Homo sapiens: one gene and its partners. The protein of the gene in region 1 interacts with the protein of each later gene in a biochemical or structural test. Each region holds a gene or a part of one and is shown in the gene's direction. Other genes may lie near its edges.

Region 1 (3,500 bases):
TTGTCTTTCTTTCATCTTGTCTCCTGGGGCTCATTTAGAGAGTTTGAGGTAATACGGGATACCATATTTGGCTCTCTGTCTCCCATTAAATTCATTGTGTCAAGAGACGGGAAATTTCTAACCTGAGTCCTCTATATGATTATACACAAAAAGGACACCTAGTTTCTGGGCATGGACCCCAATATCGATTATTAAAAACTCATTTCTTACAGAACAGGATTTTCAAACTCTTTATTCAAACTTTACATGACTTTCCTCAAATTGGTCCAGTCTATTATGTAGCAAAGGGGATGAGGAGGTAGAGCATGACCCATGAGTGCCCTTCTACATGTCCCACTTGATTCAGTCATGACTTGTTTCATCTCTCCCAGCAGCGATAGTACTAATGAGTACATGGACATGAAACCTGGAGTTTCTTATGTTGTCCCAACCAAGGCCGACAAAAGGAGATCTGTGAGAATAGGTGAGTACCTACCTATCAAGCAACCAAGAGTAACTTTACAGAGAGTATGTATATCATGCTAATGTGGAATATAACATCATTCCCAGTAGCAATGATGCAGACCAGTTCTGCTTTATGGTAGCAGTGCCAATGGTCAATGGCAGTTAGGGTTGCAAGTGGGTGTTTGGGGTCAGAGCATATGTTTTTGTGCCTGAGTATCTTTCTATAGATATGGGATCTTTGCTTTAATTCGCCATCCCTCTCCTCTATGGATTTTGTAACCCAGCCTAGGATTGTTAAATATTAACTTTGTGATTCAGCATCTACCTTTCCTGGACACCAGGGAAGTGATCTGCCTGCAAGTTCACATTAGTTCATTCATTACCAGCCTTTGGTATGTCATTGCCACTGTCTTTTCCTTTCCTGACCTTTATGGTTGTAATTGCTAAGAAAAATCCTCTCTTCCTCACAGGCTCATACATAGAAAGAGATGTGACTCCCGCCATCATGGAGGATGACGAGTTGGCCCTAGACTTAGAAGACTTGCTGAGCTTTTCTTACCAGGTGGCAAAGGGCATGGCTTTCCTCGCCTCCAAGAATGTAAGTGGGAGTGATTCTCTAAAGAGTTTTGTGTTTTGTTTTTTTGATTTTTTTTTTTTTTTTTTTTTTTTTGAGAACAGAGCATTTTAGAGCCATAGTTAAAATGCAGAATGTCATTTTGAAGTGTGGTAACCAAAAGCAGAGGAAATTTAGTTTCTTCATGTTCCAACTGCTGTCTCTTTGGAATTCCTGTTCTAATTTATAAGCTGTAAAGTACAAGCCTGTCTAAATGAGTTTTTCTATGAATATTCTTTTATATGCAGTGAAATTCTTTTAAAACTTTTGGCTTTTAGGATATAGGATATGTTCCTAGAGAACAGAATCATTTTATCAGTAAAAGCAGAGGGCACCTCATAGTTACAAGGCTTGGGGTGAAGCATAGACTTGAGTTTTATTGAAGTTAGATCCAAATATTATATGTGTGGCTTATGAAGTGTCAGGAAATAAGGGGTCAGAGGGAGTAATAAACACTTGGGAGAAGGTTAGGAATGGAAAGAATGATGGAACCAAAACAAGGAGCATGGTCTGTGGAAGGGTGAAAGGAGTTCCTTAGGAAGTAAGATTAACCGAACAGAATGAGTTACCAGTCCTACCCTTAAATGTCATGGGTGACATTTCCCAACAATTACCAAACTAAGAAAGGATATAAGATGGCTGAAATAAAGACCTTCTTCCGTGTGTCCTTGGGAGATGTCAGATTGAATTTGCAAAGGCATATTAGGAACTCTGTGAAAGGACATTCAAAGAGATGCATGCAAAATGAATTTTCAGTTTAAACAATATGATATGACTATTTCTTATGTATTTCCCTATGAATGAAAGCAGTCCTGAGAAGAAAACAGCATTTATTAGAATTGCTTTTAAAAGAGATTATAATAATTAGACTCTTGATTATGTGAACATCATTCAAGGCGTACTTTTGATTTTTATTTTTGGTGTACTGAATACTTTAAAACAAAAGTATTGGATTTTTTATAATATAAGCAACACTATAGTATTAAAAAGTTAGTTTTCACTCTTTACAAGTTAAAATGAATTTAAATGGTTTTCTTTTCTCCTCCAACCTAATAGTGTATTCACAGAGACTTGGCAGCCAGAAATATCCTCCTTACTCATGGTCGGATCACAAAGATTTGTGATTTTGGTCTAGCCAGAGACATCAAGAATGATTCTAATTATGTGGTTAAAGGAAACGTGAGTACCCATTCTCTGCTTGACAGTCCTGCAAAGGATTTTTAGTTTCAACTTTCGATAAAAATTGTTTCCTGTGATTTTCATAATGTAAATCCTGTCTAGGGATATCACACATTTTAGCAGTCAAATTAAGTATACTTCAGCAAAATTTGCATGGTATGCTGAACATTACTACAACTAACATTCAATAATAGAAGTCCTAATTCTAATTGTGTAATTTTGGGGCATGTGAAGGAAACAGAAATAGCCTTAATTTTCATTATAGCCTGAGAATAGCAATGAACTTGATTTTGCTCAAGTGTAACAAATGTAGGTCATTGAAGGTCACAGCAGGAGAAATTTTGGGGGGATTGGCATGCCGTGTGAAAAATATTAAAATCTAAGATCATATTCAGAGTTAGCCATATAGAATGTTGGATCCTAGAATACACGGAGAGCTATTAAATAGGTTCATAAGTAATAATGGGTTTGTAGAACATAGCAAATGTTTTTCAAAGTGCTGTATTTCCTTGCCAATTTTTATTGAATCCTCAGAACAAACCCTTGTCCTATAATTGCAGCACCTTCCTATTTTAAAAGTTGGAGAAACTAAGGCATGGCATATTTTAGTGCTTTTTATCTGAGGTGACACAGGACAATAGAGGCTGAAACTAGAGCCTGTGATTTCCAGAGTGGCATCCCATCGCCATGGAAAACCATATTGCCCTTTATAATATTCTCTGCCTGTCTTCCTGGGCCCATTTCTGCAGTCCAGATTTATTCCTGGAGGTGGATTTTTGTGCCCCTTATGATAATGTAATGTTTTCCCCCCATCACTGTGGCGTCTCTATTGGTAGCCTGTACTCGATTTGGTTTTGTAAGAGTGTTTCTGTGTTTATCTCCTGGCCAAAGCATGAATTTCTGAAAAGGCTGCCCTGAAGCTAGATATTATCATCAGGAGTGATAATAAAAACAACTTCTCTTCATCCTGGTGCAATTTTGGAAGGAAGAATGATAAGTCGTTAATTATCCAGTCCTCTGAATATTGACCAAAGGGAGGAGGAAGAAGGTGGCCGCCTCCAGGCCCAGTCTTGATGAATTCTGCAATCTGTCTCCATTATTTCATGCCTGTGTAATTTTGTCAAGAGTTGTCCAATACCTCTGAATCTTTGTTTTTCTCCCCTTGGGAATAATAGTGATTCCTGACTCAGAAAGTTATGAGTTAATATATGTAAAGTGCTTATGACAGTGCCAGACATATTGTTACTATTCTTTATAGATGTCT
Region 2 (3,500 bases), on another chromosome or scaffold:
CACACAGGAGGGAGCTGGCAATTCTCGGGTAGAAATAACCACCAACCAAAGTATTATCATTGGTGGCTTGTTCCCTGGAACCAAGTATTGCTTTGAAATAGTTCCAAAAGGACCAAATGGGACTGAAGGGGCATCTCGGACAGTTTGCAATAGAACTGGTAAGCAAATAGGCTTTTCTGTTAAACCATCATGTTTCTTAAAGGAAATCAGTATAATTAATAAACATAATGTTTCCAAATATTGTTTTTCTTTTAATTATCTAAGAAAAAACTTTAAAAATTTTCATAACACTAATGCTTATTTATTATATGAAATACAGACAAGTAAGTAGAAAAAACTTACATGGAAACCATCAAGCAGAGATAATCACTTTTGATGTATGACATTTTACAATTTTTAAACATATACATATAGATACACAAATATATGTGTGAGTATACATATATTTAATACATATATATTTAATATTTAATACACACACACACACACACACATATATATATATATATATATTTTTTTTTTTTTTTTTTTTTTTTTTTGAGACAGTCTTACCCTGTCACCCAGGCTGGAGTGCAGTGGCATGATCTTGGCTCACTGCAACCTCCATCTCCTGGGTTCAAGTGAAGCGATTCTTGTGCCTCAGCCTCCTGAGTAATTGGAATTACAGGTGTGCACCACCATGCCTGGCTAATTTTTATAGTTTTAGTAGAGACAGGGTTTCGCCATATTGGCCAGGCTGGTCTTGATCTCCTGATCTCAAATGATCTGCCCACCTCAGCCTCCCAAAGTGCTTGGATTACAGGTGTGCGCCACTGCACCCAGCCCACAAATATATATTTATTTCTTTCACAAACATTGAGGCCATCTGTACATGTGGTTTTGTAATCTGCCTTTTCCCCAACTTGCCAATTAATTATGAATATTCTTTCCTCTTAATAAAATATTTCTACAGGATGATTTGAACACCTGCCTGGAATTCCATCATCTGAAACAGAGTTGGCAGATAAGAATGGCCCCTATGCCAAATTTGGCTCATTGTCTGTTTTTGTAAATAAAGTTTTATTGGATCACAGCCATGTTCATTTGCTTATGTACTGTCTATGGCTACTTTGGTGCTAGAATTGAGTAGTGGCAGCAGAGAACGTGTGGCTTGTGAAGCCTGAGATATTTATTTTCTGGCCATTACAGAGAATGTTTGCTGACCTCTGGGCTAGATCAGTGGTTTTCAAATTGTGGTCCAGGGCTCTCTAGGGATCCCTAGGTTCTTTCAAGGGGTCTCCAAGGTAGTATTATCATAACAATACTAAAATGTTATTTGGCTTTTTCATTCTCATTCTCTTTTGGAGTTTTCCAACTTTGATCCGATATGGGATGACATTGTCTCTCAGGTCTAATGGAATATATGCTGTGGATTCTTACATTTTAAAAATTTCTTCATTTTAAATCCCTGATATAGTAAATATTAATAAATATAACCTATGTAAATACAAATTCTCTGAGAGCCTTAATAACTTTTAAGATGGTAAAGAAGTCCTGAGAGCAAAAAGTTTAAGAACCTCTGGTCAAGATGTGTTAGAAATTAACTACTGTGCTGTGTTGGGCAGGTGGACTGTTCACAGTCTTTCCTAAACAACACTGTGATGAGATACTTTGTTAGTTCTAGAAGGCTAATTGAAATTGATAAAATCATTTTATAGTCAGCTACGGTGGCCTGCACCCATCGTCCCAGCTACTTGAGAGGCTGCGGCAGGAGGATTGCTTGGCCCAACAGTTGCAGACTAGCACCAGCCTGGGAGACCCTGTCTCAAAAAAAAATTTTTTTTTATAGAAACAGTTTAAATTATTAAATTATTTCTAGGCCTACAGGAGAAACTTCTGGGAAATCCTAGAGAGTAATGTTCATTATTGTTGTTTTAAAATTTTGAAATAATTGTTTTTTGGAAAGGTTGAAAAACATACAGTCTTCCTTGATCTAAGATTCAAGATAGTTGAAATCTTTTATACAGAGGGTAGAATAAAGATATACCTAATGTAAATGATGAGTTAATGGGTGCAGCACACCAACATGGCACATGTATACATATGTAACAAACCTGCACGTTGTGCACATGTACCCTAGAACTTAAAGTATAATAAAAACATATATATATATATAAAAGAAATGGGACAGATTCCTTGAAACACACATGAAATGAGTTACGCTTTTGAGATTCTCCTTGAAGAAGCTTCTTCAACTGTGCTGGTTGGGTTAAGCACCGATAGTCACTCAGAGGATCTGCTTCTGAAATAAGGGATCTACTAAAATGCATCCCTCAGATGAAATGCAGTATTCCCTTTGCAAATCTGCATTTCAGACTGTTGACATGACGTCTTAACGTCAACATGTTTCTTCTGTCTTTTAAGGATGTGGATAATGGTAAGAGGATCACCACTGAGGGAGATGCATGATGTTGTGCTACTTGCTATTGCCCAGAACTTACTGTAACAATAATATAATATGCTGGGGGTCTGCGAAGTGCTGAGTGCTCTCATACTGCATTTTACATTTTTAACACAACTTCATGGAGCAGGTATTATTATCATTTCTGTCTTACAGAGTAAGAAATGGGGGCTCTGCAAACTTAAGTAACTGGCCCAGAGTGACAAGGTGGCAAACTGACCTGTGTCTGCTGTCTAAGACCAAGTGCTTAACCACCATGTAGATTGACACTTTGATGTGGTACAGCAGTAAAGTTTAGTATTAGTGAGGAGAGGGCATCTCTTTTACTATAGTTTATTGTGAATATTCTTTCCTCTTAATATCAGTATTTCTACAGGGTAATTTTAACACCTGCCTGGAATTGCATTGTCTCAAAGGACCCGTTTCATTCAATGGTCCCATTGAATGAAAGTCAAGAAGGCTTGCTATAAGATCTAAACTCTTAGGGGGGTTACCTTTCTATTATCAAATAACCTTTATTGTTATTGGAAAAAGTCAGCTTAACAGCATTAAAAGCAATTTCAAAAAAAGGAAACGAATACCATATGATCCAGTAATTCCAGTCCTATGTATATCTCCAAAAGAATTGAAAACAGGCCCCTGGACAGTTATTTGTACATCAGTGTTCATAGTAGTAGCATTGTTCACAGTAGCCAAAGGTGGACCCAAGATCCCATCAACAAATGAATGGATAGATAAAATGTGGTTCATCCATACAACAAAATACTATTCAGCCATAAGAAAGAAAGAAATTCTGATTTATGGTACAACATGGATGGATCTTGAGGACATTATGCTAAGTGAAGCCAGACACAGAAGGACAAATACTGGATGATTCCACTTACATGAGTACCTAGATTAGGCAACTTAATATTCTACAGAAATTAGAATAGAGGTTACCAGGGGCTGTTCAGAGGAGGGAGTGGGCATTATTGTTTAATGGCTACAGTTTATGCTGGGGATAATGACAGTGTTTTGGGTACAGGTAGTGGTGATAGTTACACAACATTGTGAATATTGA
Region 3 (3,500 bases), on another chromosome or scaffold:
CAGACTTCTTGTAAGATTTCAAGTTGTGTAAAGAGAAAGCTCCTAGCTAGTGTCCTGCTGAACACTAGCTTATTTCCAGACTGAATTCAGATCCTTCTTCTCGTTGTTTCTGCATTCCCACTAGAATTTTAGGTGACTCAGGCAGGGAGGTTATAGCTCCTTAAAGTTTTAGGAGGCTAAGCTGTCTAGAAACACAGTAGAACTTTAATCCCCCCGAAAAGTTGATGTTGTATTCTGATGGAATTTCGGTTGATGGAAAGCGTACACAATGTGTTTATTTCTAGCACCAGAGCCAATGGAACTTGATGGCCCTAAAGGAACTGGATATATCAAGACTGAGTTGATTTCTGTGTCTGAAGTGTAAGTGAACACAGAAGAGTGACATGTTTACAAACCTCAAGCCAGCCTTGCTCCTGGCTGGGGCCTGTTGAAGATGCTTGTATTTTACTTTTCCATTGTAATTGCTATCGCCATCACAGCTGAACTTGTTGAGATCCCCGTGTTACTGCCTATCAGCATTTTACTACTTTAAAAAAAAAAAAAAAGCCAAAAACCAAATTTGTATTTAAGGTATATAAATTTTCCCAAAACTGATACCCTTTGAAAAAGTATAAATAAAATGAGCAAAAGTTGATCAGAGTGGGAAAGTAGTTCTTTTCAATCTAGAAAAGGCCAAAGTAATGATTGAGATACACTGTCTCCACTTGCTTTGATTTTGTTGTTTCATTTTATAAAAGGTAGAAAAAATTTTGGAAATGTCATTGTCAGTTATTTGGCCTGCAGCACTGTCTTGGGGTGAATGGATGTAGCCTTCATGTAAAAACACTGTGTGGAGCAGCTTTATCTGCATTCAAACCTCAAGGTAGGGATGAGGGACTCCCCAGACATTTCTCTGGTGCTTTTCTGTCCAGGGTAAGCCACGAGGCATTGTCATCTCAGGGTAGTGCACCGCACATGCTCACACCTAGGCTTACCCAGGCAGAAGCGGCACAGATTCCAGTCTGGCTATTGCTTATCACATCCCTGGAGTGTGAAACATTTCCCAAGGGGCTGGGCTGGGGACATGAGCCTCCCATGAGCTGTACTTTTGCAAATGTATTTTACAAGTGTATGCACTTACCCAAAATAAAAATATAACGTGATAATTCAATTACAGACAAAAGATAAAGTGTGTAAGTATGCACTAGTGCTTTCATCACTCAGATGTTGACATTGCTCTTTTCTTTTTCCCCATTTTAGTCACCCTTCTAGACTTCAGACCACAGACAACCTGCTCCCCATGTCTCCTGAGGAGTTTGACGAGGTGTCTCGGATAGTGGGCTCTGTAGAATTCGACAGTATGGTGAGTACCACGGCTGGCCTGTGTGTAGCTCTCAATAAGTGTGTGTGCTCAGAGGCAGGGAGCGCACCATGGCAGATCCCGGGCCTGTCTGCGGGAGGGAGCCCTGGCGGAGCCAAGGAGAGTGCAGTGCTCAGATGAGCCATGACAAGTTGGAGCTGCTGGATTTAAACCACCTACATCATCAGTGGGATTTTTATTCCTCGCATTCAGCACCTTCCAAAAAACAAGTGACATTTCTAATATTCAGGTTTCCTCCTCTCCCCTTTAAAGTTGTCCATGTAGAAATTTCATATATTAAGGAACTAAGATTTCTTTGATAAGCAAATGTTTTTCTTCGGAATGCGATTTCATCACTGTGTCTAGGGGAGGGAGTGTTATTTTTAGAAAGGGAGGGACTAACGCTTGGTAGTTACAGTAATTAGAGAGAATTATACTTTAGCAGCAATGAGATTACTTCATCTGCCTTATATTTGAGAGCTAATTTGTACAAGTAGCTCCTGGGGCTGTGAAGGGCTTGCCAAGAGTAAAAGGTTCAAGGAGTGAAATAGTTAATGAGATTCGTGATAGAAATGGGAATATGATTGTCCACAAAAGGGAACATCTTCCTTTTGGAGGGTGCTTTTTTAGTATATCAACTAGTATTGTTTGCCTTTCAGCCTAAAATCCTTCCTCTTAAAGATTGTGCTTGCTTGGCTGGATTTTTGCTGATGCTGTTTAATTTTAAGCTCTTTTCCACATGGAGCTATTCCAGCTCATTTTTAAAAATTTATTTAATGCTTCCAAAAAATATCCTGAGTTATTACTGGCCTTTCTTCCTTACTGTATACCCGGTGCCTGGCAAAAAGTAGGTGCTCAACAAAGAGAGGAAGGCAGGGAGGGGAAAGGTGAGCGAGAATGAGAGGGCGTCACTCTTCAGACATTTGGGGAATGCGATGATAAGGCCTCAGTAAGATCTGCCTGGATTCAGGTTTCTCATGTGTAATTTTTTGACTTTTTTCCTCACCTTAAGCACGGGCTACAATCATTAGAGATTGTACCTTCCTACACTTTCCTGATTGTTGTTGACGAAATAGGCCATTTAGAAAAACAGTTAGCTATTGTGGCAGCGAAATAGTTTCATTCCTATTGGCAAGTGTAAAATGAACCTTTTCTGCATGTAAGAAGGATCCTGCTAGAGTTTCGCTCCCAACACTGCTATAGGCCTGGCACAAAAATGGAATAAATATAAAGCCCTATTCAGAAAATATGTTACATCACAGGAACTGTAAAATGGGGGGATTTTTTATACCTCCTTTGTTGTTCCTGAGCAAATTACATCATCATCACCACCACCATTAATAGGTGACATTAAGCACCTACAGTATACCATGTACTTCACAGGTAGTAACTCATTCAGTCCTCACAGCCACCTTCTGAGTTAGGTGTTATTGTTATTCCTACTTTGACAGATGTGGGAACAGAGCCCCTCCTCCCCACACAGCCCCTTTTATGTAACTTGACTAAGATCAAGCAGTTAGTAAATGGTAGAAAGAATATTTGAATCTACCTAGTGAGTCTCTAGTGCATGCTTTTGTCCGGTATCCTGGAAAGCCTCCCACAAAAAGCTAATCTTTGCCCCATTCAAAACATGCACCCTGAAGAAGCTGTTTGTACAGGATTGGGTTTATTCTGTTATTAAGACAAAGGCATCATGGCCTTTGGGTGAGAGGCCCGTATGTGTTTGGGATTTGGCAATCAGCATTCCATCTCTGTCATCACCATTATTGAGAAAATAGATGGATTGGTTCCCTCTCTGCAGTCCTGTGGAGCAGTTGGACTGCTCTCTCTGCTCTCAGGATGATACTGTGAGAACAATTTAAATATGCTAAGCACATGTCAGGAAACAGTTTTGTGGTCTTTGGACACTCGCTGTAGCCATTCCGTTCCATTTCAGGTGATTTTATTCATTTCATTTGTAGAATAAAATAAATCCATTTCACACACACACACACACACACACACACACACACACACCCTCTATACACCACTAAAGCCTCCCATTAAACCCATAGAAGACTTAAAGAGCTAAAAGAGGCTATAATATAAAAAAAAAAAAAGAAAAGAAAAGAAAAAGAGTTCATAATATAGGCACGGCACTGGTTAGACAACGGTTGAATCA
Region 4 (3,500 bases), on another chromosome or scaffold:
CAGCACTCCCTCCCAGGCCCCCTCTGGTGGGCAAGGGGACAACGGCCGGAGTCTCCACCTGATGGTTTGGGCAAGTGTGCCTGGAGTCTCAGGAACTGAGAGCAGCCTCACCAGGGAGGGGCCTTTGTGCTCAGGAAAGAGAACAGGATTTGACTATGTAAATGGACTTGAGCGGGGGTTGGACATCAAAAGACAGGGCTACAGTTCAGTGCCACCCATGTGACTTAGGAGTGCACATTCTGCGCACACCCAGCAAACCCTGCATTTCCTCGAGAGAGGTCAGCCCCGTCACCTACCACTGGGCAGGAAAGCTTTGATCTCACCTCAGCAGCTTGGAAAGCCCTGCTTGACAGGGAGCCTGGGCTCCATCTCGGGGCACAGACAGTTGCAGTGGGAAGACTCCAGCAGGTGGCTGCCTGGTTTGGGTCCAACTCTGCCGTCTTTCAGCCAGGGGCTCTTCTAAGTAGAGCCTATGTTGTCCCCACCTGGTCCCCACTCAAATCCCCCGGCAGAGTTGGCCCTGCTCCGGGGGGAGTCTGTGGGTGCCTCCAGGGGACGTTGGGTACATCGTGGGTGGGAGACATTAAGAGCTGTCAGGCTCATGCCCTCTCCTGCCACGCAGGGGCCAGCACACCTGGCAGGGCCTTATGCTGCAAAGAAGAGATGCCTTGGGAATGGGGTCAGTCAATGCAAGGGTCCATGGGTTGGCCGAGCCGGCATCCCCTTGTGCAATCTGCACAGGCAAAGCTGATCAAAGGCCCAATGTCAGTATATAGGCTGCCCTCTCTGCAGGAGCAGCTGGGGCCCGGGATCAGGCCTAGAGTGGCCGGCTCAGCTGTCTGCCATCCAGCCTGGAGTTGCGCAGGAGGGCGGCGTTCCCAGCCAACCACTCCAGAGAGAGGGGGCTTCCCTCATGGGGGAGGCGAAGGCACGTGGCTGCCTTTGGCTCAGAACCCAGTGCCTGGTCTGGCCACAGCTGACAGTGTGGTTTTGGTTTCCCTCCACATGTGGCCTTCCACAGGCCACCCAGGCACCATGGCAGGGTCTTGCTTACCCCTTCCCAGGGGCAGTGTAGACAGTGCACCGGACAGACCTGGCTTCACCAGCAGAAGGTTGTTACCAACCTGCTCCGCCTAATAACAGCAGGCAACTTCCAAAGAGCTCTGTGCCAGGCACCATTCTAGGCTTATATTGACTCATTTGATGTCCACGAAGACCTTCAAAGGAGGTCTTATTATCTCCACTTTACAGATGGGGAAACCGAGGTGCAGAGCGGTTTATGGAACAGGCCTAGTTTACAGGACTAACAAATAAAAGGGCCAGGATTGCATGCATGATCTTCCTGGAAGCGAGAAACAGAGACCATAAGGTGGCCTGTGTGGGGCGGGGCAGAGCCTGGAGAGGGAACTTCTCGTGATGGAGCCGCAGAGAAGGGACTTGGGAGGGCGAAACTCCTAATCTCAGAGAGTCCAACAGAGTTGGAAAGCTGTGGTGTGAGCGGGTGGCTAAGTCTCCCTTTCGAAGCTTCAGTAAAATAGACACTGTTAATTGTTTTTGTGCAAATGCAATAAGGCACTATTTTTCATATCTGATATTGACAGTCAGTGGGAAAAAATGCTGGCCCAGGTCGTAGCCAGAGCTACTGACATCTGGCTCACACCAGAAAGCCGGCCAAGGGGCTTTATCCAAGGCTGACTGTGCCGGGTTTTCTCTCTGCATGCAAGACCAGGAAGGGGTATGTGCCCTGGAAGGCCTATGTATTTCACTCACTAACTGTATCTTCCATGTGAAGTGACGCAGAGCAAGCATGTTAAAATGGAGTCTCCAGGTTTTCTGTGCCTACGCTCAGCCCCCGTGAAAAGTCCTTTCGGGTCCAGAGATTAGGCTCCAGCTTTGATGCTTTGCATGTTTGTCTACCTGGTAGGTTAAATTCATAAATTCATGAACACAATCAGCACTTCTTGGGTTTTTTTTTTTTTTTTTTTTGACAGAGTCTTGCTCTGTCGCCAAGGCTGGAGTGCAGTGGTGCAATCTTGGTTCACTGCAACCTCCGCCTCCCAGGATTAAGCAATTCTCCTACTTCAGCCCTCCAAGCAGCTGGGATTACAGGTGCCTGCCACCACACCGGGCTAATTTTTTTTTTGTGTTATCCTCAGGTGATCTGGCCTCTTTAGCCTCCCAAAGTGCTGAGATTACAGGCATGAACCACTGCACCCAGCCTTTTTCTTTCTTTCTTTCCTTCTTTCTTTCTTTCTTTCTTTCTTTCTTTCTTTCTTTCTTTCTTTCTTTCTTTCTTTCTTTCTTTCTTTCTTTTTTTTTTTTTGAGACAGAGTCTCGCTCTGTCGCCCAGGCTAAAGTGCCATAGCATGATCTTGGCTCACTGCAACCTCCACCTCCAGGATTCAAGCAATTCTTCTGCCTCAGCCTCCTGAGTAGCTGGGATTACAGGTACCCACCACCATACCTGGCTAATTTTTGTATTTTTAGTAGCGATGGGGTTTCACCATGTTGGCTAGGCTGGTCTCAAACTCCTGACCTCGTGATCCACCTGCCTCGGCCTCCCAAAGTGCTGGGATTACAGGTGTGAGCCACCGCACCTGGCCTTTTTTTAAAATTATTATTATTTTATTTTTTATTTTTGAGACACGGTCTTTCGCTGTTGCCCAGGTTGGAGTGCAGTGGCACAATCACAGCTCACTGCAGCCTTGCTTGATCAAGCGATCCTCCTGCCTCAGTTTCCCGAGTAGCTGGTATTCCAGGTGCAAGTCACCAAGCCTGGCTAATCTTTTTTATGTAGAGACAGGGTTTTGCTATGTTGCCCAGGCTGGCCCCCAACTCCTGGAGTCAGGTGGTTCTCCCACCTTGGCCTCCCGAAGTGCTGGCATTACAAGTGTGAGCCGCTGCACGCAGCCTCACATCAGCACCTCTCAATCAATTGGTGCCATCTCCCTGCACATGAACCCTTGCGTCATGATGACATGTGGTCCTCACAGCCAGGCATTTCTCCCCACCCCAGACATAGAGTGAGAGGAGCTCTGCTCTTCCCTCAATAATTCGTGCCATGCTGTGCACTCCTGAGGAGCAAGGCTCTGTGGTCTGCTGGCTCTGCTGGGCTGCATTTGCAAAATGCTAACCTTCCTGTGTCAACCCAGCATCTTCACAGGTGGAATGAGGATGACAAGGCCAAAGCCCACTCGTTGGGTTATTTTTTCAAATTGAGGTATAATTCATATTCCATACAGTCACCCTTTCTATGGTGTACAATTCTTAATTTTCTTTTTTTCCAAGACAGTCTTGCTCTGTTGCCCAGGCTGGAGTGCAGTGGCATGATCTCGGCGCACTGCAACCTCTGTCTCCCGGGTTGAAGTGATTCTCCTGCCTCAGGCTCCTGAGTAGCTGGGATTACAGGCGCATGCCACCATGCCCGGCTAATTTTTTTTTTTCTTTTTGAGACAGAGTCTCATCTCACCCCTGTTGCCCAGGCTGGAATGCAATGGTGT
Region 5 (3,500 bases), on another chromosome or scaffold:
TCAGCACCAGCGTGTGACTGACTGCTCGAGGCAGCGTCTCGCAGCTCAGGTGGGTGAGGTGGTGGTAGCGTCCTCCTTGGTAATATCACTGTGATGAGGAGCAAGGCTTCTCTAACATTGTCTGGACTCAGGAGGAGCAGTTGGTTTGTTCTCATGTAGATTCTGCCTCCTGTATGCTGCTGGGACCCTGAGGGTCAGCCCAAGAGTCCTGTTTTGCAATAGCCCTTCTGTTTGCTTCTCTTTGCGGTATGTTTATTTTTAGAATTCTTTGTCTTTCCCCACTCCCCCCAAAAAAGAATTATTTAATTTGGTCACTTCCATCAAATGCTCTGATTTTAGCTTAGTTAGAAGGCATGCTGAAAACTGTAATGATGATGTGAACAGAAAGACAACTGTGTGTTGGGAGGGCCAAAGAGGGAAGTGCCTTTGTTCAGAGATGGGAGGGTTTGTCTCCACTTTGAAAGGGTTTGAGTGGTTTTAGCAAACGTTCCCTGCCACGTGGGGTCCTCACCAAAGTTCTCTGTCTCTGTCTTGCCCAGGTGGACACCTGCGCAGGTGTGTGCCCTCCGGCCCCTGAAGCATGGCCAGCAGCGGCATGGCTGACAGCGCCAACCACCTGCCCTTCTTTTTCGGCAACATCACCCGGGAGGAGGCAGAAGATTACCTGGTCCAGGGGGGCATGAGTGATGGGCTTTATTTGCTGCGCCAGAGCCGCAACTACCTGGGTGGCTTCGCCCTGTCCGTGGCCCACGGGAGGAAGGCACACCACTACACCATCGAGCGGGAGCTGAATGGCACCTACGCCATCGCCGGTGGCAGGACCCATGCCAGCCCCGCCGACCTCTGCCACTACCACTCCCAGGAGTCTGATGGCCTGGTCTGCCTCCTCAAGAAGCCCTTCAACCGGCCCCAAGGGGTGCAGCCCAAGACTGGGCCCTTTGAGGATTTGAAGGAAAACCTCATCAGGGAATATGTGAAGCAGACATGGAACCTGCAGGTGGGCCACAGCTGGTCCTGCTCCCTGGGCCCAGGGGGCCCTGTGACCCCACACAGACTTCCTGGCTACATGCAACACATGTGCCTATGTGCCCTGTGTGCCCAAATAACACAACCATCTCCTTAAGCATCAATTTTGGCCAAAAAATGCCTCTCTCTGATAAGAGCCTTTCCTCTTTCACAGCCACAGCTGAGAGGGTGGGTCCCTTTGTGCCAGCAGTGTGGGTTTCTCCACAGCAGGGAACCACTGTTACCCAGTGCAAGGAGGGCCTTTTCAGAGAGGCATTGATAGGTGTTGATTGGTTTCTGTTTATCTGACAAGGTCCTACCATACACACTGATAGGCACTTGATTTTATGGCTTCCTAATATCTCTTGCAGAACTTTCTGTGTCAACACTCATATAGTTGCATCACCCGTTCTTTGGCTATCTGGTATCACCTGCTATGCACCACAATTTATTTAACTAGTACCTATTGATGGACACATTTGCTGTTTATGAATAAACGCTGCTAACAACATTGCTCTAGACCTATCGTATACTACACTTGTATGCAACGTCTGCAGGATAAACTTTGAAAGGGTTGGGATTGCCACAGCAAAGGATATGTGTGTTTATTTTTTTATTTTTTATTTTTTTGAGACAGAGTCTTGCTCTGTCACCCAGGCTGGAGTGCAGTGGCATGATCTCAGCTCAATGCAACCTCTGGCTCCAAGGTTCAAGCGATTCTACTGCCTCAGCCTCCCAAGTAGCTGGGATTACAGGCATGTGCCACCACACCTGGCTAATTTTTGTATTTTTAGTAGAGATGGGGTTTCACCATGCTGGCCAGGCTGGTCTCGAACTCCTGACCTCAAGTGAACCATCCTCCTTGGCCTCCCAAAATACTGGGATTATAAGCGTGAGCCACCGTGCCCGGCCATGTTATTTTTATTTATACACTTGAAAGTACTTAAGTAATGTGTAAAGGTCTTTCTGGTTTTATTTACTGAATGAATGAGTGAATAAGTTTTGATCCTGTTTTACCATGCCAGGACTCGAGATAGATTGGAAATGCCTTCTGCATCATTTTCATTTTTCCTCGGTATGGTTTACTCTGCTTTGCTCTCCATGTGGCAGGGTCAGGCTCTGGAGCAGGCCATCATCAGTCAGAAGCCTCAGCTGGAGAAGCTGATCGCTACCACAGCCCATGAAAAAATGCCTTGGTTCCATGGAAAAATCTCTCGGGAAGAATCTGAGCAAATTGTCCTGATAGGATCAAAGACAAATGGAAAGTTCCTGTGAGTATCGTGCCTTCCCCCTCACCTCCTGCCACCAGGCCTGTGTGGACAATTGGGAATAATTCAGCTTCCTTGTGACTGGCCCCACATGACCCTGGGAAGAGGCCATGCATTGCCATTTGACAACATGCATGCTGGCCTGTTCTAAAGACATTTCTAACCAAAGCTATCACTTGTGACCCAGTGTTTATTTTGCCCAGTCTAACTCTAAAATGAACACTCTTTTTGGGCACCGAGGGATGTAATATTTAAAGAAAATGTGATTCAGCCCCATATTCTCCTTTTAATGGCAAATTATAGGTTGCATAGCACATTCTGTGGTTATCCAACTAAAATTAAAATACTGCAGTTTTTTTACTCAAACTACCCCCTTGATCTCAGACTTTACTTCTATTTTACATGAAACAAGATGCCAACAGGAAAGATGTTAAGGAAAAGTTCCTGGGAGTAGCATCCATGAGTGGTGAGTGCAGGTTTGAAGACTTCAGCCTTAGGCCCACAGTCATTAGAGGGTCTGTCTGAATCCTGGGTTCTGTTTGCTATCCTCAGTGGTTCAGTGTAAATCTAAATTGTAGAAGGTTCTGAGATACAGGCCAACGTGGTCAGTCAGTTGTCCAGAGAAGGTAAAGAACTGTCTTTGGGAGGTGTCAACCTTGTTCCCTCGAGGGGGTCTGGTCAAGGTGGCTCAGTGGGGCAGTTGTCCCTGGGGGAAATGATCCCCTGGTCACCTCTCAGTGTCCCTACAGAGATGCTTACCTTGGAAACATAACCAGAAACAGCGATGCAGCCTCATGGTTTGGCAATTGGTGAATCCCCAGCCGACTTCGTAAACTTTTCCTAGATTTAGAAGCGTTTTCTCTGCCTGTCCATCTATTCAAAGGAATTTCCTCAGACTTCACTGTCATACCTTGTATTTTAAAAATGATCTTAGCTGAGTGCAGTGGCACGCACCTGTAGTCCCAGCTACTCCTGGCAGGAGGATCGCTTCATCCTCACTATGATCTCACTATCGTTTGAGGCTAGTTTGAGACCAGCCTGGGCAACATAGTGAGGCCCTGTCTCAAAAAAAGAAAAAAAGAAAAGAAAAATTGACCACAATACTCTTAAAAAAAAAAAAAAAAAAGGAAGAAGGAAGAGTGGCCCAGGTTGCCACGCGGCAGTGCCTAGAGTGATGGTCTTTAGTGGGATGCAGCCCCAGCCAGCAGCAGAATGCTGTGGGGAGGG
Region 6 (3,500 bases), on another chromosome or scaffold:
ATCTCAGCTCACTGCAACCTCCGCCTCCCAGACTCAAGCGATTCTCCTACCTCAGCCTCCTGAGTAGCTGGGACTAGTAGCTGGAACTACAGGCGCCCGCCACCATGCCCGGCTAGTTTTTTCTATTTTAGTAGTGACGGGGTTTCACCGTGTTGCCCAGGTTGGTTTTGAACTCCTGAGCTCAGGCTCAGGCAATCTGCCTGCCTCAGCCTCCCAATGTTCTAGGGTTACAGGCATGAGCTACTGTGCCTGGCCCAGTTAGTGATTTTTAAATTGTAGTTCCTTAAATGAGTATTTTGGATTTCACTCCACAATGTTCTTCAACTGTAAGATCTACTTGAGGTTATTTGATTTGCTGGTTTGCAAGAACTCGTCTACACGTTGTCTTTATCACAAAGAAATTCTGGAGCGTTTGAGCCCTGTTCAAAAAAAAAAGGCAAGAAGAAACTTCAGGAACAAATAACCTATTTGACCCTGTAATGAATAATATTCACACATTTTCTAATTTAAGAGCTGTTGATTGATTTCCAACTTTTAGAATCTGTTTCAGACAAAACATGGAAGTTTAGTAACAGTTTTTTCTATTCTGTAATAATAATTGCCACAAGGTTAAAAAAAAAAATTTACAGAAGAACATATTTGAGGGTGGTCGTGGGGGCAAGAAAGCTGGAAGGACGGGTGGGGTGTGTTAATAGCCTTGTCTTGTGAAGTAAGTCCTCAGAGACGCTGTCCTAGTTGGAAGAACAGGCAGTGAAGGTGTGCGTCTGTTACGGAGAATAGGACTCCAGTGATCTAGCTGGTACTTAGAGAGGTGGGGGTGATCACCAAAAAAACAGCTCTGCCTCTGGGAGCGGAGAGGACTGGGATAGAAAGTATTTGTCTTTCATTTTAAGCCCTTCTGTACGATTTGACTTTTCTTTTTTTTTTTTTTTTTTTTTTTGAGATGGAGTCTCACTCTGTCACCCAGGCTGGAGTACAGTGGCACGATCTTGGCTCACTGCAACCTCCGCCTCCCAGGTTCAAGCAATTCTCCTGCCTCAGCCTCCCAAGTAGCTGGGACTACAGGCACCTGCCACCATGCCCGGCTGATTTTTGTATTTGTAGTAAAGACAGGATTTCACTGTGTTGGTCAGGTTGGTCTTGAACTCCTGACCTCATGATCCACCCCCGGCTTTTTTTTTTGACACGGAGTTTCTCGTTACCCAGGCTGGAGTGCAGTGGCGCAATCTCTGCTCACTGAGACCTCCACCTCCTGGGTTCAAGCGATTCTCCTGCCTCAGCCTCCTGAGTAGCTGGGACTACAGGTGTGCGTCACCATGCCCGGCTAATTTTTGTATGTCTAATGGAGACAGGGTTTCACCATGTTGGTCAAGTTGGTCTCAAACTCCTGAACTCAGGTGATCCACCCACCTTGGCCTCCCAAAGTGCTGGGATTACGGGCGTGAGCCACCATGCCCGGCTAAAGCAAGAAATTTTCATTGCATATTTTAAGCAAAGGCAAATGCATATGTGGATAGACTGTTTTAATTTGACTAAAGTCATATTGAATCCATGAATTTTAGAAGCTCAAACTATTGGGGAACAATAATTACCACCTTGGAGTGAAAATACTTAATTTCCACAAGATTTAGTAAAGGAAGAGTTTTTTAAAAACCACCTTAATGATAATAGTATGTACAGATGTTAAGAAATGAAATAGGAATGTGTAATGTTGGAAACACAAATATTTTTGCTTCTGAGAATAAAACTAATTTTTTCTCCCAATTTTCTCTTCCTTTTTCTTTTTTCTGTTCCCCCCTTTCTCTTCCAGAAGCCCTTCAGCGGCCAGTAGCATCTGACTTTGAGCCTCAGGGTCTGAGTGAAGCCGCTCGTTGGAACTCCAAGGAAAACCTTCTCGCTGGACCCAGTGAAAATGACCCCAACCTTTTCGTTGCACTGTATGATTTTGTGGCCAGTGGAGATAACACTCTAAGCATAACTAAAGGTAAAAGGGTTGTGGGCAGCTAGTGGTGGTTGCAGGAGATAGAAATCTGGGAATTGCGGTTTGACCTACCACCCTTTGCTCGTTAAAGGAGCAGCTTTGAAATCTGGACTGCAGGGATATCCAAAACAACAACTGCATGTTTCTAAGGGAGTCGACTCTCCTTAGAGGAGTTCTTGTACAATAGCCCTGGGCAAAAACAGAACTTGCCCTATTTTTTATACTGAAAAGGACAGCTGGACAAAATACTGAACGCAATTTTTCCCCTAAGAAAAAGCATTATTTCCCTAAAATGTCTTATATTAGGAACAGAGCACTTGAATAAACATAATTGATTTATAAAAACTGAGGCTATACACTTACCTATCTGTTCAGTACAAACAGGAAGCTTCAAATGTAAACGTGAATTCTCATACACTTATAAATGCATATCTTTATGTGGACTTGTTAAAATGAAATTGGTATTTAGGAATTTGGAGATTTTTAGTAGTTACACAAGAATCAATGAAAAAGAACGAAGCTGGTTTCCAAAGCTGATATGTCTGATTTGGTTCCTTTCTTCTCAGGTGAAAAGCTCCGGGTCTTAGGCTATAATCACAATGGGGAATGGTGTGAAGCCCAAACCAAAAATGGCCAAGGCTGGGTCCCAAGCAACTACATCACGCCAGTCAACAGTCTGGAGAAACACTCCTGGTACCATGGGCCTGTGTCCCGCAATGCCGCTGAGTATCTGCTGAGCAGCGGGATCAATGGCAGCTTCTTGGTGCGTGAGAGTGAGAGCAGTCCTGGCCAGAGGTCCATCTCGCTGAGATACGAAGGGAGGGTGTACCATTACAGGATCAACACTGCTTCTGATGGCAAGGTAGGGGACCCTTGGCAGGGGGCGCTGATGGGCCCAGGGCAGGGGAACCAGAGGTCCTGCTGTCGGATTGATAAATTATTGCAAGAAAGCTCAACCAAGAAGATGTTTAAAGAATCTTTCAGGTGGGAGTCATTCCATTAGCCTTATGAAGACCCTTTATTGAGGATCCGTTCTGTGATATTACAAGTTCCTGGGACTGGTATGATTCTCTTATTGTCTTGCTAGAGTTTTGTTGTTAGCAAGTTACTTAAAATAGGAGGAATATCTGTTGGGTTTTGGACACATTTTTTACAATAAGATTCTTCCTTTAAAAAAAATATTTTATAATGATAGAAATCATCCCCAACGAGAAAAATTCAAATAATAGATAACCTTTCTTAGAGCGAAAGACCACTTTACTATCCCCTCCCCCACAGACGCCTGGCACGTGGGCTTCTTCCTGCGGATGAACACATTCATGGAGAGGTGTGTGGACATACGTGCATACACGCATGCAGTTTTCAGTGAAAACCGGGATCAAACCCACAGCTTACCAAACCCAAAGTGTGGTGTTGTAAGGGAGGTGGCCTATATGATTTTGTGGTCTTCATATAAATAATCCTTAAGAGTCCATAAAGAGAAGGGAGGAGTTAACATTGACTGAGGTATTGCTATAAT
Region 7 (3,500 bases), on another chromosome or scaffold:
TTCCGGAGGTGCAGAAGCCCCTGCATGAGCAGCTGTGGTACCACGGGGCCATCCCGAGGGCAGAGGTGGCTGAGCTGCTGGTGCACTCTGGGGACTTCCTGGTGCGGGAGAGCCAGGGCAAGCAGGAGTACGTGCTGTCGGTGCTGTGGGATGGTCTGCCCCGGCACTTCATCATCCAGTCCTTGGATGTGAGTGGGGCTGGGACCCGAGCCTTCCAGGCCTCACTCTTCCCCTCCCTTCCCTTCCCCAAGGGAAATGGCCTTTCAGGGTAGGGGGTAGCTGCCAGGTCTTGGATGCCTCCCTAGCAGGGCTGGCTGGAAGGGGCCACAGAGACCACCCTGTCCCTGCAACAAAATAGAGGCTTAAGTGTGAGTCCTCCCCTGGTGGGGCAGCAGGATGTCATGTGCCATCAGATGGCATCTTTTCTGGAGGTCTCTCTGCCCCTGGTCCTGGGCAGGCCCTTTCTCCCCTGCTGCTCTCCCTTTCCCCCTCCCAGGGCTCACGCCCCCTCAGAATGGAGGCTGCTGACCCCGGGTCCCCTGCCCTGCAGAACCTGTACCGACTGGAAGGGGAAGGCTTTCCTAGCATTCCTTTGCTCATCGACCACCTACTGAGCACCCAGCAGCCCCTCACCAAGAAGAGTGGTGTTGTCCTGCACAGGGCTGTGCCCAAGGTGAGCCTGCACCCAGCCTGGCCCATGCCACCTGTGGCAGGGCTTGGGGAGTGTGGGTCAGGCCCACCCAGCGTCTGAGCAGAAAGGGCTTTCCAGGCCCTCCGTCTACATACAAGATGCAGAGTGAGTGACCCTCAGGGCCAGCCTTGCTCTAGGTTTGGAATGTCAGGGCCACTCCTATGCCATGGGCTGTACACACCAGGTTGGTGCTTACCTGGTCAGGGCACCTGCCTGGACCCCGTAGTCATCTCAGTGTGCTCCCCACGTGGTCCCACCCCTGGTCACATATGGAGGCGCCAAAAAATGGAGGACACAGCCCTTCTAAGGGCCCAGCACCCCTTTTCTTCAGACTTCTGATCCCCTGTCTCCTCTCTTCCCCAGGACAAGTGGGTGCTGAACCATGAGGACCTGGTGTTGGGTGAGCAGATTGGACGGGTGAGTGCGCCTCTGCTGGCCTCCTTGTCGCTGGCGACTTCTCCTGAGTCGCGCCTGGGCCCCCTGCCCTACCACCCAGAGACCTCCCTGCCCCATCTGATTCCCCACTTGTACCCCGACTCCCTGCCCAGCCCCCACCACACACCATCCTCCAGGAAACGGGACAGTACCTACCCTGAAAACTCCCAGCAGACAGCTCTGCCAGCACCCTGACCTCATCACCCCCACCCAGGCCGCCCCCATCGAGCTCTTGTGTGCACGCAGGGAGACACCCTGTTACTGTAAGCCATAAGATACCTGTTTAGGGAAGAAGTCACTGTCCTAAAAATCAGAATGCTTTTCAAACCCAAGGGAGAGTGATTTTTGGATTTCCATGTCACTTCTCTCAGGAAGGGTGGCACATCGGAGGCAACTTTCCCTGCCTGCCCCATGTGCTCTCTAGGTTCCCCAGCGAGGGTCAAACTCCCAGAGAGCCTGGGTGAGGGGTCCGAACACGGGGGCCCCTCACCCAGGGGTAGGAAGCAGAATGGGTAGGAAGCGGAGAAGAGAACTGCGGGACTGGGAAGGCCGTGGTAGGAGCCCAAGACCGTTTCAGGGGAACTTTGGCGAAGTGTTCAGCGGACGCCTGCGAGCCGACAACACCCTGGTGGCGGTGAAGTCTTGTCGAGAGACGCTCCCACCTGACCTCAAGGCCAAGTTTCTACAGGAAGCGAGGTGGGTGATAAACTAATGATCACCACGGGTCCCGCATACACAGAGGTTACACTGCATGGCACAGTGTGAAGTGCTTGACCACCGTGGTGGTGTTTAGTCCTCGAGGCCCCCCATTGCGGGTAGTACCCCCTTATAGTGCCGAAGGGTAGAGGCTGCCCCAGGTCACACGTCCGGGTCTGCTGGCCTTGGAGGCCAAGCTCTTCTCCCATCATCCCTGGGGGGCCCTGGGGAGGCGGGCCTGGCCACGTAGATCCTGAGCAGCAGTGCCCTCCAGGATCCTGAAGCAGTACAGCCACCCCAACATCGTGCGTCTCATTGGTGTCTGCACCCAGAAGCAGCCCATCTACATCGTCATGGAGCTTGTGCAGGGTGAGCGCGGGGCGCTGAGCTCCAGGTAGGGCGCGCAGCCTGGTCAGGTGGCAGCCTTACCTCAGGAGGCTCAGCAGGGGTCCTCCCCACCTGCAGGGGGCGACTTCCTGACCTTCCTCCGCACGGAGGGGGCCCGCCTGCGGGTGAAGACTCTGCTGCAGATGGTGGGGGATGCAGCTGCTGGCATGGAGTACCTGGAGAGCAAGTGCTGCATCCACCGGTGAGTGGGCGGTGGCCACGGGCCCTGCCAACACCCCCGACCAGAGTCAAGAGGTACCTATACCCCTAGGGCCCCCCGCTGGACCATCAGGCATCAGCTCCAGAGGGGGAGTTGGCCTCTGTGGTAGACAGGGGTGCCCAGGGCCGGGAGCAGCTTTTGTCCTTGGCTTTCCTAGAGTGTTCAGCCAGGGCTGGGCAGGCGACTGTTGGCCAAATGAGCCCCTGCCCTGTCTCACCCAGGGACCTGGCTGCTCGGAACTGCCTGGTGACAGAGAAGAATGTCCTGAAGATCAGTGACTTTGGGATGTCCCGAGAGGAAGCCGATGGGGTCTATGCAGCCTCAGGGGGCCTCAGACAAGTCCCCGTGAAGTGGACCGCACCTGAGGCCCTTAACTACGGTACCTAGTCCCTGTCTACCCTGGACTCCATGGCCAGAGGCCAGGCCTGGGTCCTGCCGGCTGCCTCGCCCTGGCCCCAGGGAGGGTGCACTCACGCTGCCTCACCTCCTCGCCTCCTCTGCAGGCCGCTACTCCTCCGAAAGCGACGTGTGGAGCTTTGGCATCTTGCTCTGGGAGACCTTCAGCCTGGGGGCCTCCCCCTATCCCAACCTCAGCAATCAGCAGACACGGGAGTTTGTGGAGAAGGGTAAGCACCCTGTGATGACAGCAGCCTCAGGCTGCACCCTCTTCCAGATGCTCCAGCCGGACTCTTCTAACTCCCTTAATGCCAACCTTCCCACCAGGCAGAATAAGAATAACCTGGCCAGTTGCTCACGCCTGTCATCCCAGCACTTTGGGAGGCTGAGCTGGGTGGATCACTTGAGCCCAGGAGTTCAAGATCAGCTTGGACAACACAGTGAAACTCCATCTGTACAAAAAATACAAAAATAGACTGGGCACGGTGGCTCACACCTGTAATCCCAGCACTTTGGGAGGCCGAGGCAGGTGGATCACCTGTGGTCAGGAGTTTGAGACCAGCCAGACCAACATGGTGAAACCCCATCTCTACTAAAAATACAAAAATTAGCCAGGCATGGTGGCACGTGCCTGTAATCCCAGCTACTTGGGAGGCTGAGGTGGGAGAATTGCTT

What was found.
Region 2: of the proteins of KIT (region 1) and PTPRJ, one has a biochemical effect on the other in vitro, tested with the Homo sapiens proteins (one large-scale study listed by IntAct).
Region 3: the proteins of KIT (region 1) and STAT1 form a complex in vitro, tested with the Homo sapiens proteins (one study listed by BioGRID).
Region 4: the proteins of KIT (region 1) and INPP5D form a complex in vitro, tested with the Homo sapiens proteins (one study listed by BioGRID).
Region 5: the proteins of KIT (region 1) and SYK form a complex in vitro, tested with the Homo sapiens proteins (one large-scale study listed by BioGRID and IntAct).
Region 6: the proteins of KIT (region 1) and ABL1 form a complex in vitro, tested with the Homo sapiens proteins (one large-scale study listed by BioGRID and IntAct).
Region 7: the proteins of KIT (region 1) and FES form a complex in vitro, tested with the Homo sapiens proteins (one large-scale study listed by BioGRID and IntAct).

Annotation. Positions count from the first base shown.
Region 1 is NC_000004.12:54,730,957-54,734,456, forward strand, and holds part of KIT (mast/stem cell growth factor receptor Kit isoform 1 precursor), read left to right. Parts: intron 1-371; coding exon 372-463; intron 464-914; coding exon 915-1,042; intron 1,043-2,113; coding exon 2,114-2,236; intron 2,237-3,500. UniProt on the Homo sapiens protein: Tyrosine-protein kinase that acts as a cell-surface receptor for the cytokine KITLG/SCF and plays an essential role in the regulation of cell survival and proliferation, hematopoiesis, stem cell maintenance, gametogenesis, mast cell development, migration and function, and in melanogenesis.
Region 2 is NC_000011.10:48,130,559-48,134,058, forward strand, and holds part of PTPRJ (receptor-type tyrosine-protein phosphatase eta isoform 1 precursor), read left to right. Parts: coding exon 1-158; intron 159-952; coding exon of another isoform or gene 953-957; exon of another isoform or gene 958-2,162; intron 2,163-3,500. UniProt on the Homo sapiens protein: Tyrosine phosphatase which dephosphorylates or contributes to the dephosphorylation of CTNND1, FLT3, PDGFRB, MET, KDR, LYN, SRC, MAPK1, MAPK3, EGFR, TJP1, OCLN, PIK3R1 and PIK3R2. Plays a role in cell adhesion, migration, proliferation and differentiation.
Region 3 is NC_000002.12:190,972,672-190,976,171, reverse strand, and holds part of STAT1 (signal transducer and activator of transcription 1-alpha/beta), read left to right. Parts: intron 1-260; coding exon of another isoform or gene 261-284; coding exon 285-360; coding exon of another isoform or gene 361-364; exon of another isoform or gene 365-634; intron 635-1,239; coding exon 1,240-1,342; intron 1,343-3,500. UniProt on the Homo sapiens protein: Signal transducer and transcription activator that mediates cellular responses to interferons (IFNs), cytokine KITLG/SCF and other cytokines and other growth factors.
Region 4 is NC_000002.12:233,063,342-233,066,841, forward strand, and holds part of INPP5D (phosphatidylinositol 3,4,5-trisphosphate 5-phosphatase 1), read left to right. Parts: intron 1-3,500. UniProt on the Homo sapiens protein: Phosphatidylinositol (PtdIns) phosphatase that specifically hydrolyzes the 5-phosphate of phosphatidylinositol-3,4,5-trisphosphate (PtdIns(3,4,5)P3) to produce PtdIns(3,4)P2, thereby negatively regulating the PI3K (phosphoinositide 3-kinase) pathways.
Region 5 is NC_000009.12:90,843,319-90,846,818, forward strand, and holds part of SYK (tyrosine-protein kinase SYK), read left to right. Parts: intron 1-539; 5' UTR 540-580; coding exon 581-997; intron 998-2,115; coding exon 2,116-2,276; intron 2,277-3,500. UniProt on the Homo sapiens protein: Non-receptor tyrosine kinase which mediates signal transduction downstream of a variety of transmembrane receptors including classical immunoreceptors like the B-cell receptor (BCR).
Region 6 is NC_000009.12:130,852,254-130,855,753, forward strand, and holds part of ABL1 (tyrosine-protein kinase ABL1), read left to right. Parts: intron 1-1,810; coding exon 1,811-1,984; intron 1,985-2,547; coding exon 2,548-2,843; intron 2,844-3,500. UniProt on the Homo sapiens protein: Non-receptor tyrosine-protein kinase that plays a role in many key processes linked to cell growth and survival such as cytoskeleton remodeling in response to extracellular stimuli, cell motility and adhesion, receptor endocytosis, autophagy, DNA damage response and apoptosis.
Region 7 is NC_000015.10:90,891,004-90,894,503, forward strand, and holds part of FES (tyrosine-protein kinase Fes/Fps), read left to right. Parts: coding exon 1-188; intron 189-550; coding exon 551-673; intron 674-1,054; coding exon 1,055-1,108; intron 1,109-1,703; coding exon 1,704-1,822; intron 1,823-2,096; coding exon 2,097-2,191; intron 2,192-2,287; coding exon 2,288-2,411; intron 2,412-2,650; coding exon 2,651-2,808; intron 2,809-2,932; coding exon 2,933-3,055; intron 3,056-3,500. UniProt on the Homo sapiens protein: Tyrosine-protein kinase that acts downstream of cell surface receptors and plays a role in the regulation of the actin cytoskeleton, microtubule assembly, cell attachment and cell spreading.